Homo sapiens: one gene and its partners. The protein of the gene in region 2 purifies or fractionates together with the protein of the main gene of each other region. This does not show direct contact. Each region holds a gene or a part of one and is shown on either strand. Other genes may lie near its edges.

Region 1 (7,022 bases), on a different chromosome or scaffold from region 2:
GCAGATGCTGGGCTTTGATCTTTATTAGACTAAGTGCTTTATCAGAATAACCAAACTAAAAACCGCTTTTGATTTTATGGGGTTAGAGGACAGTAGTGGTGGAATGATCCAATGAAGAGATCCTAGCATCTTTTCAACTGGTAGCTGCTTAGGCTTAATAGAGAAGAAAAATAAGATTTCAATCTACTCTGACAAAGAATGGAAAAAAATGGTACATAATTTTTACCTGCTGCCAGGATCTAAGAGCATCATTGGTCAAAATGCTTTCTTCATTTCGTTTCTTTTTTTTGAGATAGAGTCTCACTCTGTCGCTCAGGCTGGGGTGCAGTGGTGCAATCATGGCTCACTGCAGTCTCAACCTCCTGGTCTTAAGGTGGTAATCCTCCCGCCTCAGCCTCCTGGGCAGCTGGGACTATAGGTGCACACCACCATGCCAGGCTAACTTTTTTTTTTTTTTTAGAGATGGGGTATCACCATGTTGCCCAGGGTTGGTCTCGAGCTCCTGGCCTCAAGCAATCTTCCCGCCTCGGCCTCCCAAAGTGCTGGGATTACAGGTGTACGCCACCGTGTCTGGCTGATTTCTCTCATTTCTAATGCTAGGGCAGACAGACAGCACTGACTACGACTGTGGAGTTCAGTCTTCATTATTCTAAATGACCCAGCAATCTATTGCCTAGATACCATATCCACTCTCTGTCACAGATCCATGAAGAAGCACTTCTACCAGAAAGTTACATTGAAATTTGTAGATAACTTGTTATTTTGACATTTTTTATCATAATTAATGTGGGGGCCCAAACTTCTGAGGGTAACAGTAATTCAGCCAAGCCACTGAGTAGATGATATACAAAAAGAGACAAATGAAAATGGACTGCGTGAAACATCAGATCCAAGCAGCAGAAACACAAGGACAAGGAAGGAGTAAAGGTGTTACACACAAAGAGCCAAGCAGGGCGTACTCAGAAATCGGGTCCTCCTGCCACCAGGTTTGAATGTCACCTGTTCAGATGCACAGTTAAACTTCGCACAGCCTGTGAGAGGGGAAAAACAGGGTAGAACAGAGAGAGGAGAAGAGACAGAACACAACTACAAGATGTTAGAAACTTGAGGCTGGAGTGGTGAAATGCACTAAGATGGCACACAGAAGAACAAGCTTCTGGGGGGAAGGTCAGATATGTAAGAGATGAAATATTAGGTCTTAATTCTACCCATCTGCAAAATGCGGAAGCTTTTCTTAGTTCGAATAATGCTAGCTAGTTTGCCCTCCTTACCAATCAAGTGCATTCTTCCTGTGAAGAGACTGATCTCTAATTTCTGTGAAACTGTGGCAAAGGCACATAAGCCAGTACCTATATTTTTTTCATTCTTCTCACCCAGATGCCCAAGTCTTTTCAATTCTTGTTCTAATATGACTAAAAGCTCTTTCCTCTGTGGGAATTTTTTCAGCAATCACTAATAAACAGAGCTATATTTGGAAAGTAGATTATGGATAAAAAACTGAATTGTAAGGTTATTCATTTTAGTATGCCACTCCCATACTTAAAAGTAACAAAATTCTACAATGGCTAAGAAAATGTATTAGCTTCAGAAACTGCTAAAACACCTTAGAATTTCATCCAGGAAATCTCAGCCTAATATTAAAGCCTAAGTTCCAAATCCCAAATGAGCAAGTCATATAGGCCACACAGATGTAACTTTTCACTGTAATTCCTTGAAAAAAAGTAATTTCACCTAATGGGAGCAGTGAGCCCACCGATTCTCATTATCACTCCACTTCCCTTTTCACCCAGATTCTTCAGTGTACAACACACAGGCTGTGTTCTGGTCAGCTAGTCTCCCAACCCGCCTTAACAGGCTTTTGTCCCAGGTATGGCAACATCTCCATTTTATTGTTTTTGGACGATGATGGTTGCTTTATTACCTTGACCTGGAGCAGAAAGGCTTGGTACTGAAATGGCACCATCACTGGTGAAGGCTGAATAGAGGTTGTCACTGGAGGGAGATGGCTTAAGGGGCTGTAACAGCTGATTCTGCCCGGACTCTGGGATGTTGCCAGGAGGGTGGAGGGTCTGCTGGGGGTGCAAGACTGAAGCTGCACTCTGACCAGACAGGTTACCTGCCAAAAGATAAAGTGGCATGAGGAAACATGTCCAGCTCTTCCCATGCACTCATCAGGCACTGTTCTTATACATTTGGTTTGTTCCACTGAGTGATGAATGATGGGTCAAAAGCTACAAACTGATGAGAAGAACAAAGTCCTCACTAACGGGAGAAGTGAGGAATGACACTAAGACTCAATAGATAGGCTGGGTGTTGTGGCTCACGCCTATAATATCCCAGCACTTTGGGAGGCCAAGGTGGGCGGATCACCTGAGGTCAGGAGTTCGAGACCAGCCTGGCCAACATGATGAAACCCTGTCTCTACTAAAAATATAAAAATTAGCCAGGCGTGGTGGAGGGTGCCTATAATCCCAGCTACTCAGGAGGCTGAGGAAGGAGAATTGCTTGAACCCAGAGGCAGAGGCTGCAGTGAGCCGACATCATGCCACTGCACTCAAAAAAAAAAAAAAAAAAAGAAAAGAATCCATAGGTAATAGGGCCATATGTACTATTCCAGAGCTTTTTAGCTTTAGAAAACCTAGATGGGCCACATGTCTGAGCAGCGTAAGAAGACCAGAGTACCTAGTGGATACCCAGATTCCATTCTGCAATTCCATGATTGCTTTTTTTTTTACCCTATTAGAAAATGTGTTGAATCATTATACAAAAAGGTTTGCTAGGCAGTCTCTGCTTAGACTTTCCTATAAACGTGCATCAGAGCAAATACAAAAGAGGTGTTCAAAAATGATGGAGGTCACTACAGAGCAATGGGTGTTTAAAATTATTTTTGGTAGGTTGCTTTCAATAGGTCGGTTGTCCTAAAATTGACTCTCTGCTCCCCGGTTCCCAGTTGAATTCAAGTCCACTCAAAAAGTATGTCAAAATTAGGATTAGAATTTGATTAGGATCATAGCTGGGCATAGTGGCTCATGCCTGTAATCCGCACTTTGGGAGGCTGAGGCGGGCGGATCACCTGAGGCCAGAAGTTTCAGACCAGTCTGGCCAACATAGTGCAACTAAAAATACAAAAATACAAAAATTAGCCAGGTGTTCTTATACATTTGGTTTGGGATTACATGCTTGTAATCCCAGCTACTTGGGAGGCTGGGGCATGAGAATTGCTTGAACCTGGGAGTTGGAGGTTGAGCCACTGCCGACTCTGCCTCAAAAAAACAAAAACAAAAACAAAAAAGATCTGATTGGGATCAGATCAGAAATTAGCTGATTTCTCTTACAATCACATCTCTACTAATGGGCTGCATGAACTGGCCCTAATGTGCTACATTTGGATATCTGTGAACCTTTCCAGAGAATGGAACTGCTAAGAAGTTTGCAACTGCTTTTTAACATATTTTAACCTTCTTTTACTTTTCAACTAATTGTGTTAACACTACCATAATTTCACCAAAGGATTAGAAACTCTCTATCTATCCCAATTAAAATATAGTCCAGGGCCGGGCACGGTGGCTCACGCCTGTAATCCCAGCACTTTGGGAGGCCAAGGTGGGTGGATCACCTGAGCCAGGAGTTTGAGACCAGCCTGGCCAACATAGTGAAACCCCATCTCTACTAAAAATACAAAAATTAGCCAGGCATGGTGACATGTGCCTGTAATCCCAGCTACTATGCGGGGCTGAGGCAGGAGGATCACTTGAAACTGGGAGGCGGAGAATGCAGTGAGCCGAGATCGTGCCACTGCACTCCAGCCTGGGCAACAGAGCGGGATTCTGTCTCAAAAAAAAAATTCAAAGTTAGCAGGGCATGGTAGTGTGTGCCTGTAATCCCAGCTACCCAGGAAGCTAAGGTAGGAGGACCACCTGAGCCTAGGAGTTTGAGGCTGTTGTGTTGTGTGCTATGATCACACCACTGCACTCCAGTCTGGGCAACAGAGTGAGGCCCTGTCTCTTAAAATAAATAAATATATATATATACTACATTACAAAAGAGTATCACTTAACTATTTCTTTGATTTTAATGACTAGCAAGTTCTTCTTTTTTTTTTTTTTTTTGAGACAGAGTCTTGCTCTGTCACCGAGGCTGGAGTGCAGTGGTGCAATCTCAGCTCACTGCAAGCTCCGCCTCCCGGGCTCATGCCATTCTCCTGCCTCAGCCTCCTGAGTAGCTGGGACTATAGGCGCCTGCCACCATGCCCACCTAATTTTTTTATTTTTAGTAGAGACAGGGTTTCACCGTGTTAGTCAGGATGGTCTTGATCTCCTGACCTCGTGATCTGCCTGCCTCAGCCTCCCAAAGTTCTGGGATTACAGGCGTGAGCCACCGTGCCTAACCAATGACTAGCAAGTTCTTTAACCCAATATAAATGAAATAAAAACCTTAATCAAGAAGTTACCACTTAGACATACACACAAATATCTATATGACGATTACATTCATCTAAGTTGCAATTATGACTAAGTCATCCATTAAAACAAAGAATCTACCCAAGTTTTACTAAACAGAGAATAATGTATTTTCTTCCAACTGCCCAAGAGTTTGGTTAAATGTGAGTTATACGAGTTAACAGGCAAAGCTAAATGTCTATCCTTAAGAATAACTATAAATAAAGATTACCAGTAGATAGCAATATGGATTACAATGGAATAAGCCATTGTATTCACTAAGTCTACTTCTATAGACTCAAAAAGAGGTACAATAAATGTAAGTACAGCAGTCAAGGAAGCAAAAATATCAGGAGAGCCAAATTCCTTTGAAATTTAACAAAAACAACAAATGTTCAGCAGGTCACATACAGCTGGAGACAGAAACAAAAGATAGGACAGCTGTGGCTGACCTAGTCCAGGGCTTTTTACCTGAAAGCTGGGGGCTTTTATTCCCCAAGGAACTGCTTCGACTAGATTTGCTGCCTTTGCTTTTAGTGGGTCGTCGTCTTCTCCCTGAAAGGGGAGCAGCTGGGGGAATAATAACAGCAGGGGGCACCTTGCCCAGTTTGGTATACAAAGATTCAATTTCATGCTTCTGGCGACTCTGCAGGTCCTGAATCTCTTTGAGATGTCTGTGAAAGATAACCAAACATAATTCAAAATACCATAATCCTCTTCATTCAGACAAGAATTAACAGCATATTCCTAAACCTGCTTTCAAGTATGTAGTAGTTACTAATGAACCTTTTCCCCAAATGTACTACCACGAGATTCTAGTTTGTCAACTCACCTTGCTGGCCTGCATTACCCAAGCCATGTTCCAACAAGCTCCTAGCCAACAACAAATGGTTGATAATGTTTTAGGAGAAAAACATTTCCTGACTTTTGAGGCCACGCACACAATAGCTGAATTTGCTACTCTGACCCAATCTGCCAAACAAAACGTGCCAAATAATCATACATCCCAGTGCCAGATTCATTTAGTGGACTAATAAATAAAGAGCAGTTAATAGTGATACAATATGCTATTAATAAAAATAATAATACAATACAGTAACAATAATACAGTAATAATATAGTAACAATGAAGAAGTTCTAGAACTAGAAATGCTATGGGTCTGTATGAGTGCAAGAGAAGCTGCCTGTGCCTGTGAGTCAGTGGTTGGGAATCGTGTGTGTGTGTGTGTGTGTGTGTGTGTGTGTGTGTGTGTGTGTGTGTGTGTGGTGGGGAGGTATGGGGTGGGGCTTCTGTGGCACTGTCTCTTTAAAAGAAATGAGACATTAGCATATTGTGGCGAAAAATATTATTAATCTTGGCCCTGGGATCTAGGTCTGAAAACCTTATCTGACATTCTTTCACAAGAGAAAATATACTTACTTATCTCGTAGTCGTCGCAGCTCTAACTTTAAGTCTTCATCTTCGATATCTGACTCATTGTCGCTACTCATGTAAGAGGAGTTAAATGAATTACTAAGGCTTTGACTTAGATTCTGGCTAGGAAGGCTCTTTGAGCTCAGCTGATGGGGCGAGTGTGGACTACCGGAACCATCATCCACATCCCTACTTAAAAAAGCGGCCTCCGGGTCAGAAGACGGCCCATTTAGATGTGAAGGCTCTGACAGTTCAGGCTTCTCTTTCTTTGGTATCACAGCAGGAAGAACAGCTTGTTCCAAATCCATAAAAGGAGGAGATGCCACTGGTCCTTCTTTCTTTGTGTCAGTGATCTTGTCCTCAGTTTTTGATACAGAGAAACGACCCACTTTGTTTGCTGTAGTTGTCACCTGAAAACGTCCAACCTTGGTAGGCTGCCCAGTGTCTGACTTTGCCTCTGAGGCAGTAGTTTTGTGGGCACTCTCTGGCACATCTGAAGAGATACCAGGGATGGTTATGCCATTCGGCTCTGGTTTCACCAAGGTACTCTCTGGACTACTACTTGATAGCACTGAGGACTCTGAGGTGCTGGATTCAAAATGAACAGACTTTGCATCTTCTGACTTATTTTTACCCTCTTTCTGGGCACCGTCTGCTGCAACAGAAACCTGATAAAAAAGGACAAAGATTAAAAACTTAAGTTCTCAATATCCAATTTCTATCACAGACAATTTAAAAAAGGAAAAAAAGAATCACTTTATTTCCCTGTCAAAGAGTAGGCTGATTGTCTCTTTACATAGCGCCTCCACTTTTGACTAGGAAGAAAAATTGAATACCATCATAGAGAACACATGGGTACTGAGATGCAGATTCTGTGTGGCTGGCTACGCTTATAAAGTAAATAATTTACTTTCGTATTTGATGTCATACACAGAATTCAGATTTATGTCTTAGTCAACATATACATAACAAAAGGTCAGGGCCAGGCATAGTGGCTCATGCCTGTAAGCCCACCATTTTGGGAGGCTGAAGCAGGTGGATCACTTGAGGTCAGGAGTTTCAGATCAGCCTGGCCAACGTGGTGAAACCCTGTCTCTACTAAAAATACAAAAATTAGCCAGGCATGGTAGCGTGTGCCTGTAATCCCAGCTACTTGGGAGGCTGAGGCA
Region 2 (7,114 bases):
CCACCACTCTAGGAACCAATACTCCCATGTCTGCTGGGAGACACTGCTGGCCCTCACTCAACCAGACCAAGTCCCAGCCTCCTATGCCTTCCCCCTTCTGTCCACTCTACACCTCTGCCCGCCTGCTCCTATACCAATGTGGCCTTCTCTGGCCTTTCCTGGATTCCCTTGGCCAATTAGTGCCTCCTGCCTCTGTGCCCAAAACACACTAGTATTCGCCCCGTGTCCCTGGGGCCCAGCACAGAGCTGGCACAAAAGAGATGTCACTAAGTGGCTGTTGGATGCACAACCTCTGCAGGTCAGCCTCCTAAGATCTCCCAAAAGAATATGACCTCTCCCAGGCCTCTACCCCAGCCCCCTCACCTGCACACTCAAAGAGCAGCTCCCCATCGCTGAGCCGCCATACGAAGGCTTTGTCATCTTCACCCCCGGTCACTGCCAAGGTATTGGTCTTGGGGTCCAGGCTCACACAAAACACAGATGCTGTCCCAAGAGATATTCCATGGGTAAGGGGACAGAGCTCCCACCTAGGGCTCTGTCCTTCACAATCTTCAGGAAACCCACCCCCTTTCACCCAAAGCGTGTCTTTCCTCCTGGAAAACACAGGTACATCCAAGTTCTTCTAAGTTTCAAGAATTGGGTTGTTAGATCCTTCCCATATTTGCCAAGCTCCCTATTTGCCAGAGTAGATCCCCTCACTGTGTGACTCCCGTCACCACCCAACACCAATGCCATGGACAAGAGGTGGGGACAGGTGCAGGGCTTACAGTTGTCAGCATGGGATGCCACCGGGGTTGGGTACAGAGCGAGGAGAGCATCACGTTAAGGGTTTTTTGTTTTTTGTTTTTTGTTTTTTGAGACAGAGTCTTGCTCTGTCGCCCAGGCTGGAGTGCAGTGGCACAATCTCAGCTCACTGCAACCTCCACCTCCCAGGTTCAAGCAATTCTCCTGCCTCAGCCCCCTGAGTAGCTGGGATTACAGGCGCCCGCCACCACAACCAGCTAATTTTTGTATTTTTAGTAGAGATGGGGTTTCATCATGTTGGTCAGGCTGGTCTCGAACTCCTAACCTTCTGATCCACCCGCCTCGGCCTCCCAAAGTGCTGGGATTACAGGCATGAGCCACCGTGCCTGGCAACAGTTTCTTACTAAGAACTAGCACTTGAGAAAGTTATATAAAATATGCTCAAAAAGATATAATTATCTCTCATTTTATTTTATTTTTTTGAGATGGAATCTTGCTCTGTCGCCCAGGCCGAAGCGCAGTGGCACAATCTCAGCTCAATGCAACCTCTGCCTCCCAGGTTCAAGTGATTCTCCTTCCTCAGCCTCCGGAGTAGCTGGGATTACAGGCACATGCCACCACACCCAGCTAATTTTTTTTTTATTTTTAGTAGAGATGAGGTTTCACCATGTCGGCCAGGCTGGTCTTGAACTCCCGACCTCAGGTGATCCACCCGCCTTGGCCTTCCAAAGTGCTGTGATTACAGGCATGAGCCACCGCACCTGGCCAATTATCTCTAATTTTATACTCACTACTTTTATTAACTTTTATCAAAGATAACTTTTTTTTTTTTTTTTTTTTTGGAGACAGACTCTCATTCTGTTGCCCAGGCTGGAGTGCAATGGCGCAGTCTTGGTCCACTGCAACCTCCGCCTCCCGGGTTCAAGCAATTCTCCTGCCTCAACCTCCCGAGGAGCTGGGACTACAGGCGCCCGCTACCACGCCCAGCTAATTTTTGTATTTTTAGTAGAGACGGGGTTTCACCATATTGGCCAGGCTGGTCTGGAACTCCCGACCTTGTGATCCGCCTGCCTGGGCCTCCTAAAGTGCTGGGATTACAGGCGTGAGCCACCATGCCCAGCCAAATTTTTGTATTTTTAGTAGAGACTGGGTTTTGCCATGTTGGCCAGGCTGGTCTCGAACTCCTGACCTCAAGTGATCCACCTGCCTCAGCCTCCTAAAGTGCTGGGATTTCAGGAGTGAGCCACCACGCCCGGCCAAAGATAACTTTTTAAAAGAAAACTAAGAGGTTAATCAAGGTTAACTGGCAAAGTAGAGGGTGTCTCGACTGATGCCAGAAGCCAAGCAATCATCCATTCTGCCACACTTTCCCACCTGTGGGCTCCTCCAGCGCAAGGCCAGCATCTTGCCCATCTCTGTGTCCCCCATAACGTTCTGTCCATGGCTGATGTTTAATGCTTACACGCCCACCTAAACTGATTTGAGGTGGATCGCCTCAAAGACCTACCTGAGTGCAATGCAAAGGTGACCTCGCTATCGTCGGGGCCCTCCATGCTGCCGACCACCCCTTCCTGGGGTTCTAGAACCCAGCCCTCTTCGTTGCCCTCTTCCTCCTCTTCTTCCTCAAAGTCCACATCTTCCATCTCCTGGGCCAGGTCATCTGCTTTGGGGAGAGGGTTAGAAGATGGGGCTCGGGAGGCGGTAAGAGGTACGGAGAGAAGCATGAGGAGGCCTGAGGCTGGGGCGGGTCATGTGGCGAGAAGGGAAGGTGGAGTCAGACACACCGGGGTCCGCGGGGGCGCGCGGGACACAGGACGGGAGGCCACGGCTGGCCAGAGACCGTGCGGTAAGGGAGGGCCAAGGGGATGATGGGAAGGGGGTGTGTGAGGGGAAGGGCCAGAGGAGGCGTCAGGGAACCCCCACCCCAGCCAGGCCTGAGAACTAAGTGTGAGGGTGGGAGTGGGGGAGGAGGGGAAGAGGGATATCGGTAGGAATGACCAGTCGGGTGTGGAGGGGAGCGGGGAAAAGCAGGAGTCAGAGGCCAGGGGTGAGCGTCTCCTGTCCCATGGCCTGAGGAGCGGCAGTTCTCACCTGGGTCCGGCGGACCGGGATCAAGTTCTACCACCTCGATAATCTCTTCATCACCATGGAAGCTTAGGGTCTCCAGTGGGGGGGTGTCAGCAGCAGCCCCGCTTTCCGATTCGGACTCCATGCGGCGCAAGCGGCGGATCCACTTCTCTGGGCCCAAACGCCTCCCAGAGTCAGCTCTGCGCGACGACGCGGAACTCGAGCCCCTCCTCCCGGCAGGAAGTAGGCGTAGGCGACTCCCCAGCAGGAAGAGCGACGGCCGTTCGGCCAATAGCTACGAAGGTTGGCTGGCCGCCTCACCAATCACAGAGCGGCATTGGAAGATGGGGCCGGGGCGTGGCGGAGAGAACCCAAACTCCGCCCCACCTGACTCCGCCCCCAACTGGAGGGAAACAAGCGAGCGCGCGCGCCTCCGGGGTCTCCTGGGAAGAGTAGTTCTCCTGGGTCCGCTCTGCGGGCTTCTGGGAGATGTAGTTTCTGGTCTGTAGGCAGGACGGAAGGAGCGGGGGAGGCCCCTTACGCAAACTACAATTCCCGGCGGGGAGCGCGGTGAAGCGGGGGTGGGATCTGAACATGGCGGCGGTGGTAGCTGCTACGGCGCTGAAGGGCCGGGGGGCGAGAAATGCCCGCGTCCTCCGGGGTAAGGAGAGGGACCCCGGGGAGGGCAGGACTGCAGAAGATCCCTTTTCTTTCACGTCCAGCCCGACGATAGCAGGAGGTCAGGGCTCTTGGTTCCTCCCCACACTTTTCTGCAAGATCTTAGAGTCTGGGGGTGCAGAGATGCTCTTTAGAGGTCACCCAGTGCATCCCCCCGCCTTCGGGTTGCTCGACACCTCCGGGGTCTTGCTGCAAGAGGGAGCTCCTAGGAAGCCTGTTGGACTCCCGCGCTCCAGGTGTTTCACACTCACCGCAGTGCAGAGGAAAGAGCCCCGGGCTTCTGGAGGTTTGAGTTCCAGCCCCGGATAATTAGCAGTTTGACCTTGGGCAAAGCAGTTTTTCTCTCAGGGCTTCAGTTTCCTCTTCCGTACAGTGCAAGGGATGGAGTAGACTATCTTTAAGGTCCCTTCCAGTGCTAACATTTGCAGTTTCAAAACCTTTTCCCGGATTTCCTTCATACGTCTTATGTGAGTCCCACTGCAGTCCTTCCCATGCTGTCGTCTGAGGAAGAACAGCGAAGCTTTTCGTCCTGGCACCAGGGTGATGAGCCCGCAGTGACGTGGAAGTGGCTTCCAAAGGTGCCACCTCGGTGGCGATTTTCCCATTTCCCTTTGGATTCTCCTTGGCACTTCTTACTTCAGACTGCAGTCACTCCCCTTCCCCAGATCTCAGCCGCTCCTCCCAAGCCCTTACTGCCCCCCACCTCCCCGCTTGCTTTCTTCTCATCTCTTCTTACTGACCTTCCTTACCTCCATCCACAGGGATTCTCGCAGGAGCCACAGCTAACAAGGCTTCTCATAACAGGACCCGGGCCCTGCAAAGCCACAGCTCCCCAGAGGGCAAGGAGGAACCTGAACCCCTATCCCCGGAGCTGGAATACATTCCCAGAAAGAGGGGCAAGAACCCCATGAAAGCTGTGGGACTGGCCTGGTGAGTTTTAACCACCCCTTTGCCCACCAACGGGGCGTGGCTTGTAGGGGAGGGCAGGACTTAGAAACTTCTCCAAGTTTCAGGTGGCGAGCTGAATCCAAAGTTGTGGGAACAGAATTGTTGGGTTCGATTGGAATCTCAGAGGGGTGGGGCAGTGGAGGTGGGAAAGTATGTGGAATTGAGAAGACAGTGGGTTTACTGTGGAGTAAGCTGAGTTGATCTGATTCAGACTTGGGTCCCTGGCCTCATCCTCCCTTTTGGGAGCTTGGAGTGAGACCCAAGTTTAAGTAAGTAGTTCGTTGAGATCATGTGAGCTTGTACTAGTTGTATAGTAGTACTCAGAAGGCGTTATGAACATTGTGATTGGGCTCTGACTCTGACCTTAATACATATTATTGACCAATATTAAAGAGAAAGGAGGAAGAAATCAACATTTTTTTCTGCATGTGAGGTGTGCCAGTACTTTGCCATGTAATGTTTTAGTGTTTGAGATAAGTATTACATCCCCATTTCACAGAGGAAGGAACTGAGACTGAGCTAGGATTCTCACCTAGTCTGTGACTCCATGCTCTTTCCCCCATACCAAAGTGCCTCCCAAGCAGTGGTTACTTAGCTTAAGAGGGGAAAACTGGGAGGGTACCTTGGCCAAGTCTCAGAGAGGGAAAGCGTCAGGGCTGCCTGGAAAATCCTGCACAGGTGCTGTTGCAGGAATGCAGGGCTCGTGCTGAGGATCAGGCTCTAGGCGGGAGGAGGAAAGAGGCAGGCAGAGACCCAGCCACACTGGGCCTTTTGTGCCATGTTTGGACTTGGCCAGGAAGTGATGGAGTTACGGGGTTTTAAGCAGGGAAGTGACAGGATCTGATTTGTGTGGGTCCCTCCAGCAGCCAGCACAGAGGATGAATAGACTATAAGAGGTATTGCAGCATTCATGCAACTGATGAAGCTAGAATGACTCCCCCCAGCTCCTCTGGCTCAGGCTTGGCCCCTCCCCAAACCCCGTGCACATCTCCCCACCCGTAGGGCCATCGGCTTCCCTTGTGGTATCCTCCTCTTCATCCTCACCAAGCGGGAAGTGGACAAGGACCGTGTGAAGCAGATGAAGGCTCGGCAGAACATGCGGTTGTCCAACACGGGCGAGTATGAGAGCCAGAGGTTCAGGGCTTCCTCCCAGAGTGCCCCGTCCCCTGATGTTGGGTCTGGGGTGCAGACCTGAGGAGCGCTGCGACCCTCCTAGGCTATTGACTGTTAAGTCCTCAGGTTTGGCCCAGATTCCAGTTCGTGCCTCTGAGGTCCACCAGAGGGCGCATGAAGCCCAGGCTGTTGCCAAACCCTACCCTGCCCCACACCAAGGAGCCAGCCAAAGGCAAATAAAGTTATTGAGTGTTTAGTAGAAAGGAACCAGGTCTGGGTTTGTGAGTCCCTTGGGATGGGAGGGGCAGAGGGTGGGGCTGGTTACTCATGTGTGCTCCCTCTCACAGAGCTCAGTGTTCCCAGCTGGATGGTGGGGCAAACCCAGAGACTTAAGTGCAACCAGCCTAGGCCCCGGGCCCTCGGGACCAAGCCCTCAGAGCTGCCGGCCAGGAGGGTGGGGTCCCGCTCAGCCTTGAAACAATAAAGAGAATCAAAGAAGGTATTCAGGGTGTGGAGGCAAAAAAAAGCACTGCTCTTTACTGAGTCCAAATGACTCGACTCTGGGCCTCAGTTTCCTCATTTGTTTTGTTTTTTGTTTTTTGTTTTTTGAGACGGAGTCTCGCTCTGTTACCCAGGCTGGAGTGCAGTGTTGTGATCGTCAGCTCACTGCAACCTCCACCTCCTGGGCTCAAGTGATCCTCCTACCTCAGCCTCCTGAGTAGCTGGGACCCCAGGTGAGTGCCACCATGCCCAGTTACTTTTTGTGTTTTTTTTTTTTTTTTGGATTTTTTTTTACTTATTTTTTTTTTTTTTTTTTGAGACAGAGTTTCACTCTTGTTGCCCAGGCTGGAGTACAATGGCATGATCTCAGCTCACTGCAACCTCCACCTTCTGGGTTCAAGTGATTCTCCTGCTTCAGCCTCCAGAGTAGCTGGGATTACAGGCACTCACCGCCACTCCCAGTTAATTTTTTTTTTTTTTTGTACTTTTAGTAGAGATGGGGTTTCACCATGTTTGGTCTGGCTGGTCTCAAACTCCTGACCTCAGGTGATTCCCCCCCACCGCCCTCGGCCTCCCAAAGTGCTGGAGTTACAGGTGTGAGCCACCGCACCAGGCCCAGTTTCCTCATTTTGTAAGATGGGACTGGAGTTGACATGGACTGAACCTGCAGTCCATCCCCTCCTCCATCTGCAAAACTGTAGGTATACATACAGCTCTTTGAGGAAGAGAGTTAGCTCTCATGAGCTTTTGGAAAGGGTCCATGGTGCAGAAAAGGTCAAGCACTACAGCCAAGAGGTCTCTTCCATATCCAGTGATCCAGTGTGATAGGGTTGAGCTCTCCCTTTCCCCACCCAACTCCTGAGCCTTCACTAGTCTATTGCATCCGTCCCCGGAAACTGCTGCAGTAAAGTGTATTTGATTACCTTGGAAAAGGTGGGACAGCCCAAGCCAGAATGCAGAAGGAAGAAGTGGATACTTTGGGCAGAGCCACACATACTCCTGGAGCCATACAGGGTTTTAACTTCTAGACATAAACTTTATTACATTTATAGTTGTATCCCTT
Region 3 (7,097 bases), on a different chromosome or scaffold from region 2:
AGCTGGGCAGCAGGCTGTCCAGGAGCTCAGCGTCCCCACCTCGGCCACTGTCACTGCTTCCTGCTAAGTCCCCTCCCCTAGCCCCAGGGAAAAGGGAGGGATGCCCAGACAAGCCTTTATTGCCCAACCTGAAACCACTGGGCAGCCACTCCCTCATTCCTGCCGTCCACAACTCCTGCGACCAAAAGGACAAAATAGCAAGAACACAGCAGAATAAATAACTACCAGGTTTGCAAGGCTGAGAAGGCATCACACACCGCCCCTACCCGGAAGCTCCGGAGCCATTCAGGGAGCTGGGCTGACTCTGTCCAGACTGGGGACAAGGGGTATCACATCTATTCTACTTGGGCTTCTGAGTTCATCTCTAAGAATAACAAAGGGGGCCAGGAACTTTACAAGTGAGGTGATTTGCCAGACATCACATGAATAGCAAGTAGCAGAGGCAGAATTTGACACCTAATACCCCAGCTTTAAATCACAGCCTCTGTCTGGGGCTTTGCAACAACTCTCAAATCCATTTTTTGTTCCCTGGCACTCACAGACAGAGCCTTACTTTACAAGGTACTTGGTATCTACCAAAAGTGCCATACACCATTATCATGATGGCTATGAGGCAGAAGAGGAAACTGAGGCATCAAGAATGGGAGTAACCTGCTCTAGGCCTCACTCCCAAACTTCAGTTCCTGACAGTCCTCCTGCTGGCAGGGCTTGGGGCTTGTGAGTGTTCTTGAAATCAAAGCGATGGTGGTAGGAGCGGGGATGGGGCGCATACAGAACCCCGCGGGTTTGATTTCACGGTGGGAGAGGGAGGCAAAGTTGCCGCAGGACATGGGGGAGAAGTTGGGGAGGATGGGGTGGGAGGTCGCCTTGGGCGTCCTTTCGGGAACGGGGAGGTCAAAGCTAAAGCTGTGCCCTATGGCCCCGGAGCTGCAGGGCGAGGCCCAAGCGCTGGCCAGTGGCCGGCGCGAACGCTGGAGCCACAGGAGTTCCGGCCCGAGACACCGGAGCCAGCAGCAGGGCCGCGAACGCGATGCCGGGGAGGTCAGTTGTCTGCGGCTGGCGACCGTGAGGAAGCGGCTCCGCTCCAGCACGTGTCTCGGCTCGGATCCCGCCCCGGGCGTCTCCCGGCTACCCGGAGCCCGCGGAGCAGCCCCGCCGGTGGCGAGGGCGGGGGAGGTCACCCGGAGCAGGGCCCCGAAACTCCGCGGGAAGGGGCCGCGGTCTAGGATCCCAGGCCTCAGGGTGGGATGTGGAACACGCGCACGCACACACATCCGACACACCGTCCACACTCCGACGAGCACACGGACACACAAACACAGGCTCCGTATACATACATTCAGCTGCGCGCACACACACACGCGCACGCACACCAAAGACACCAGACTCCGAAACACACCCGGAGAACGCGACCACACAGCAGACAAGCGCGGAGCCACACGCTCACACTCACGCTCACACTCAAGCACACACCTGGCGGTCCCGGCCGGCCGGGAGGCCGCACAAAGTTGCAGGCTCCACCAAGGGAGTGTCCCGGGAGGCCCGGGCGTCCCCCGCGCGTCCTGCGCGCCAAGGGAGGGGGCGCCGTCCCCCGGCGGCGAGCCAGGCCCTGCCCGCGCCCGGACGTCGCAGCCCAGCCCGGGGACAGCCCCCGCCCGGCCGCCCGGGGCGCAGCCGCGGCCCGGCCACCGCAGGAGCGCCCGCCGGTCCGGCCCTCCCCTGCCCGCCCGCCGGCCCCTCGCTGGGGCCCGCTGGCCCGGGCGCCCCGCAGCCCCGGCGCCGCCTCGGATCAGCCGCCCGCCAGCGCCGCGCGGAACTTGCGAAACAACAAACAGTCCGACATGCCCGAGGCGGCGGCCGCGGGGCCCGGTCCTCCCCTGAGCCTCGGGCCCTGCCCGACCCGGGCAGCCCAGGGGGCGCCGCCGCGACAACTTGTTCCGGCCCAGCGCGCCACACACGCGCACACGCACACGCGCGCACACACGTCCTGCCACCGCCCCCTCGGGCGGCCCCGGGACCAGGGCACACTCGCAGCCGCGGCCCAGGCGCGCTCCACACTCGCAACATTCCTGGACGCGCAGCCAGCACACACGGACACATTCGCACACACTCACATCCGTTCCAGACTCGCTCCCACACACGCATTCCCGGCACACTTGGCATTCACTCGGACCCACGCGGCCCCCGGCAGCACACACCACATACCCTAGACACTCCCCACACGTACACAGCGCACGGACACACACGTTCCGGACCCGTTCCCACGCCTTCACACATGTACACGGATCTCAAAAGCACACACGCCACACACGCGTTCCCGGATCCACACTCAGGCGGGATCCAGAGAGCACCCTTGGCCACAGGCATAACACAAACACACAACCCACTCGCAGACACAAAACAAACAGCACTCCCGGCCAGGCATACAAAATGCAAACAAATGCAACACATTAGCAGATACAACTCCCGCAACACAACCAAACTCAGATGCACACACAACCCACTTGGCCACACAAACACTACACACTGGCAGACCCACAAGACACTCAGCGCACACCCAATGCCTCGATGCACACAACATTCACCCCCAACATACTCGCCGACACACATCACCTTTTCTTGCGCACAGAACTCACGGACACACAACATTCGCAGTCACGCAACACCCCGGGCACACAATCGCCCATCCTACGCTCAGACACACACAGGGAGCACGCTCGTAACGCCCGGTCACTCAACACTCACACTTTCTTCCGAGCTACGCCACGGGCCCCGAGGCTCGGCGGGGCAGGCTCGGTCCGGCCGCCGCGCGCTTACCTGCCGGAGTCTCGGTCTCCGGCGCGCAGAGCTGGAAGGTGAGTGCCAGCACGAGCGCCTGGGCACGGGCCATGGTTGGAGCGTCGCCGCCCGTCCCGGGGCCCGGCGCGGGGGACGCCGCCCCCGGAGCCCGAGCCCAGCCCGAGGCGAGCCGGAGCCCGAGCCGGAGCGGAGCGGCGCGGCGCGGAGCGGGACTGGCGCCGAGTCCAGAGCGCGAGCCGGAGCAAGCGGGGCGCTGACGTCAGGCCCGGCCGCGGGTTCGGCGGTCTCGCGGCGCTCCCTGCTGGCCACGGCGGGTGCTGCAGCGGGTCCGGCCGCCCGCTAGCCCTGGCGCGCCCCTCCCCCGCTCCCGCATCCTCCCCGCCATGAGGCCCCGCGGCTGGGTCTGGACGCCCACGGACGTCTCCACGGACCGGGCACCAACACTGCCAGGCGAGCACGCTCATGGCCCACGCCTAGCTCCCGTACAGCGCTCTCAGGGACGGTGACCCAGGGACACCCGGCCTCTGTCCCATCCGATGCCTGAATCCCTTGTACCTTGGCGCCTTCAAATGCGTGTTCTACATACCTCCAGGAACAGGGCGCTCATCACCTGGCCAAGAGCGGTTGTTGGGGCTTTGGAAACGCCGGCTTTTAGAAAGTTTTTCATTTCATGACGTGCAAGTCTACCTCCCTCACTAGCCCTCACTGGTCCTACTCTACCTTCTGGCTACACAGGTTAAATGTATTTGGGCCTCTACCCAGAACGAGCCCTCGCACTATGATCTGCAAACTCGTTGCTCATTACTATGTAAGACCAGGTACCTTCTATGTGTTTAACCCACATGGACTCATTTAATCATCATATATTAGGTATGCAATAATTATACTGCATAAATACTGTTATGCAACAGTATTTGACAGCACCGAGATTTGAATCAAAGTTGTTTGGTTTGAATTGAATAGGGGCTGAGACCTTCCTCCCATCTGGACACCTATTCATTCAACAAATATTTATTGGGGTCTATTCATTTATTCAACAATTACTATAGGCCAGGGTAGAGATATAAAACAGACAAAAATTCCCTACTCTCATGGACCTTACATTCCAGTGGGAAGACAAGAACAGTAAACAACCAAAAAAACAAAAACAAAAAAGCAAACCCTCTGGTGTACGTCCTTTATCACTGTCTCATACACCAGGAAATTTGGGGGTGGTGGGGGGACAGGGAAGGGAAGGGGAATTGTTGCAATTTCAAATAGAGTGCGGGCTATATGATGAGTTCATTATCTGTCTCCACCTCTAGAAATGAGCTCCCTTGGGAAAAGACTCATCTTGTATTTCCGTGCCCAGTATATGGCATGTTTTTATTATTTTATTTTATTTTATTTTATTTCAAGATGGAGTTTCACTCTTGTTGCCCAGGCTGGAGTGCAATGGCGCAGTCTTGGCTCATTGCAACCTCTGCCTCCCAGGCTCCAACAATTCTCCTGGCTCAGCCTCCCAAGTAACTGGGATTACAGGTGCCCACCACCACGCCCGGCTAATTTTCGTATTTTTAGTAGAGACAGGGTTTCACCATGTTGGCCAGGCTGGTCTGGAACTCCTGACCTCAGGTGATCCACCTGCCTCAGTCTCCCAATGTGCAGGGATTACAGGCGTGAGCCACCGCGCCCGGCCTCTGGCACGTAATTGATGCTCAATAAATACTGACTGGATGGAATGAATGAAAGGGAAATGGTCCTAGCCTTCATGAATCTTACATTCTATTAGGAGAGCCCAACAGCAAACATGTACATAAATATATCATTACCATCTAAGATATGCAAGCTAAAGGAAACGAGGGAGTATAATGATAAAGAACATAGGGAAGGGGCATCTCCTTTAGATAAGTGGTCCAAGAGGGCTTTGCTATAGAAGTGACATGGTGACATTTGAACTGAGACCTGAAGTATGAGAAGGAGCCAACCTCATGCAAATCAGTGGAGAGGAACATTGCAGTCAGAGGGGACAGCCTGTGCAAAGGCAGGAGCTGGTGGGTACAAGCAGCTGCAAGGAAGCCGGGCAGCTGGCATGGAGTGAGTCAGGGGCAGAAGGGAGCCAGGTGCAGCTAGACAAGTCAGCAGGGTCTGTAGGTCAGGCAAGAAACTATGAGCAAGGAAGGGGCTTGAGGTTCAACCCTAAGAGTAATTAATGGGAGGCCACTGAAGTGGAGTAATTAAGCAGAGGAGTAATAAGGAGTAATAAGTTCTGATCTCTGGGTTTTTTTTTTTTTGTTTTTTTTTTTTTACAGCTCCAGCTATAAAGACTGCTGAAGTAGGGAAAGCCATGGGCAGATGGGTCTGACCACTGGGCAGTGACACTGAACAAAGCGTAGGAGTTCAAGGTATATGTAGGCCCTCCCTGTGCCCTGCCCCTCCTAGCTGGCTTCATGCTGAGATGGACACACCTTGAAGCTGCCCTGGGGCTGGAGGAGGTATCGCTGGGTTGAGAGTTCCTGGGCTCTTGGTCTCCTCTCTTGTGAGAGCTGATGAGCTCCACACTGAGTTAGGAAAGGGACCAAAAGACACAGCAGGCAAGAATTAGACACAGATAATTAAATAGGGAGAGGGAGGCAGAAGCAAGAAGAAACCAAGGGGAAACCTTAGGGAAGAAACTAAGATACAGAGACGCTGGAGCAGAGAGGAGCCAGAGAGGCCCACCCAGAAAAGGAAACTCAAGGAGAGAAAACCAGTGAACAGAAGAAACAACCAAGGGTGCTGTTTGCAGAGGGCTCTTGAGAGAGCCTCAAAATAGGAGTTTTACCAGTGATCCCATTTTACGGGTGTGGAAACTGAGGTTCAGAGAGCATATGACACTTGCCTAAGGTGACACAGCTAGTAAATAGACGGCGGGCCCTAGATTTGAACCCAGATCTGACTGATTCCACATCCCTTTGCCCTTTGTGCAGGGGAAGATGGCAGAGACTATAATGGAGGGAGAAAGAGAACACAAGCAACAGGTAGACAGATGAGAAGAGGACTTTCTGCTTTACTTTTAAAAGACCACAAACTTCAGCCGGGCACAGTGGTTCACACCTGTAATCCCAGCATTTTGGGAGGCAGAGGCGAGGTCAGGAGTTTGAGACCAGCCTGACTAACATGGTGAAACCCTGTCTCTACTAAAAAAAAAAAAAATACAAAAATTAGCCAGACGTAGTTGCGGGCACCTGTAATCCCAGCTACTCAGGAGGCTGAGGCAGGAGAATTGCTTGAACCTGGGAGGCGGAGGTTGCAGTGAGCCAAGATCGCGCCATTGCACTCCAGCCTGGGCAACGAGCAAAACTCTGTCTCAAAAAAAAAAAAAAAAAAAAAAAAAGACCACAGACTTCTATAATCCTTGAGAGAAGAAGGAAGAAGGAAATTCCTGGCCTGGAGTGACCAGCCCAAATCTAGGGAAAAGGAGATGGCACCACAGACCGTTCTAGGCCATGAGGAAATTCAATTACCTGCAACTCATGGAATATTTATGACACCTACCCTGTGCCAGGCTCATATCGGGTGCTGGTGTTATGGAGATAAACCAAACATGGCTCCAGTCTTGCCTGGAGGGGAATAAATAAGAGACGATGTACTAAAGGCCATAACACAGCTCCAGGGAAAACACAAAGGCAGCAGCAGATGACCTAGGGAGTTTTGAAACATCAAAGAAATGACATCTGAACCTGGAGTTTCCGAGGCAGGGAACAGCATTTCAGGCAGAAGGAGTGGCCTGAATAAAGGCACAAGACACACTGGGGAAGACGGGTATCAGATGCAGCTGGATCACAGGCTATGCACGGTCCAACAGGAGAAGATGAAGCTGGAAATGCAGTGTGGGAGTCAGAGTGCAAAGAATCTTGAATGCAAGTCCAGGAAATTGGACTTGAACCCCTCAGTCAGTAGTTCTCAAACTATGCCCCTGCAAGAACCCAGATGGCCTAGACTAAAAGTGAGGGCTATTGGGATGCACAGGAGGCTAAAGTCCAGCCCCAAGGAGGAGGACTTGCTGGATGATTCTTCAGGCTTCCTGACTGGGCTCCCCAGAAATTCAGAGGAGCCAATTTGGTGAAGAAGAGAATGTCGACATCTCAATGTCACCTAGGGAGTCTTACAACAGAAGGTTACGTTGTACTTCCCAGTTCAAGTAAGCCTATGTGTCACTGGGGAAAAGGGTAAGCAGGACTGGTCATCGTGTGTGTGCTGGCACATAAATGTGGGGCCAAGCCTTTCCCCCACCATGGGACACCAACTTTCTCTAATAATAAAAACAAGTACAGACA

Evidence for each region. Proteins that work in one complex are often made in the same cells at the same time.
Region 1: the proteins of AAMP (region 2) and WNK1 purify together in Homo sapiens (affinity purification with mass spectrometry; 3 studies listed by BioGRID and IntAct, with this or other methods). This does not show direct contact.
Region 3: the proteins of AAMP (region 2) and PTPRU purify together in Homo sapiens (affinity purification with mass spectrometry; 4 studies listed by BioGRID and IntAct, with this or other methods). This does not show direct contact.

The regions. Positions count from the first base shown.
Region 1 is NC_000012.12:895,570-902,591, reverse strand, and holds part of WNK1 (serine/threonine-protein kinase WNK1), read right to left. Parts: intron 6,522-7,022; coding exon 5,860-6,521; intron 5,114-5,859; coding exon 4,911-5,113; intron 2,117-4,910; coding exon 1,922-2,116; intron 1-1,921. UniProt on the Homo sapiens protein: Serine/threonine-protein kinase component of the WNK1-SPAK/OSR1 kinase cascade, which acts as a key regulator of blood pressure and regulatory volume increase by promoting ion influx.
Region 2 is NC_000002.12:218,267,131-218,274,244, forward strand, and holds the start of AAMP (angio-associated migratory cell protein), read right to left. Parts: upstream 3,008-7,114; 5' UTR 2,957-3,007; coding exon 2,836-2,956; intron 2,408-2,835; coding exon of another isoform or gene 2,405-2,407; coding exon 2,252-2,404; intron 484-2,251; coding exon 364-483; intron 1-363. Other genes in the region: probable thioesterase PNKD isoform 1 precursor, read left to right, coding at 3,406-3,472, 4,251-4,419. UniProt on the Homo sapiens protein: Plays a role in angiogenesis and cell migration. In smooth muscle cell migration, may act through the RhoA pathway.
Region 3 is NC_000001.11:29,232,438-29,239,534, reverse strand, and holds the start of PTPRU (receptor-type tyrosine-protein phosphatase U isoform 1 precursor), read right to left. Parts: upstream 3,014-7,097; 5' UTR 2,891-3,013; coding exon 2,818-2,890; intron 1-2,817.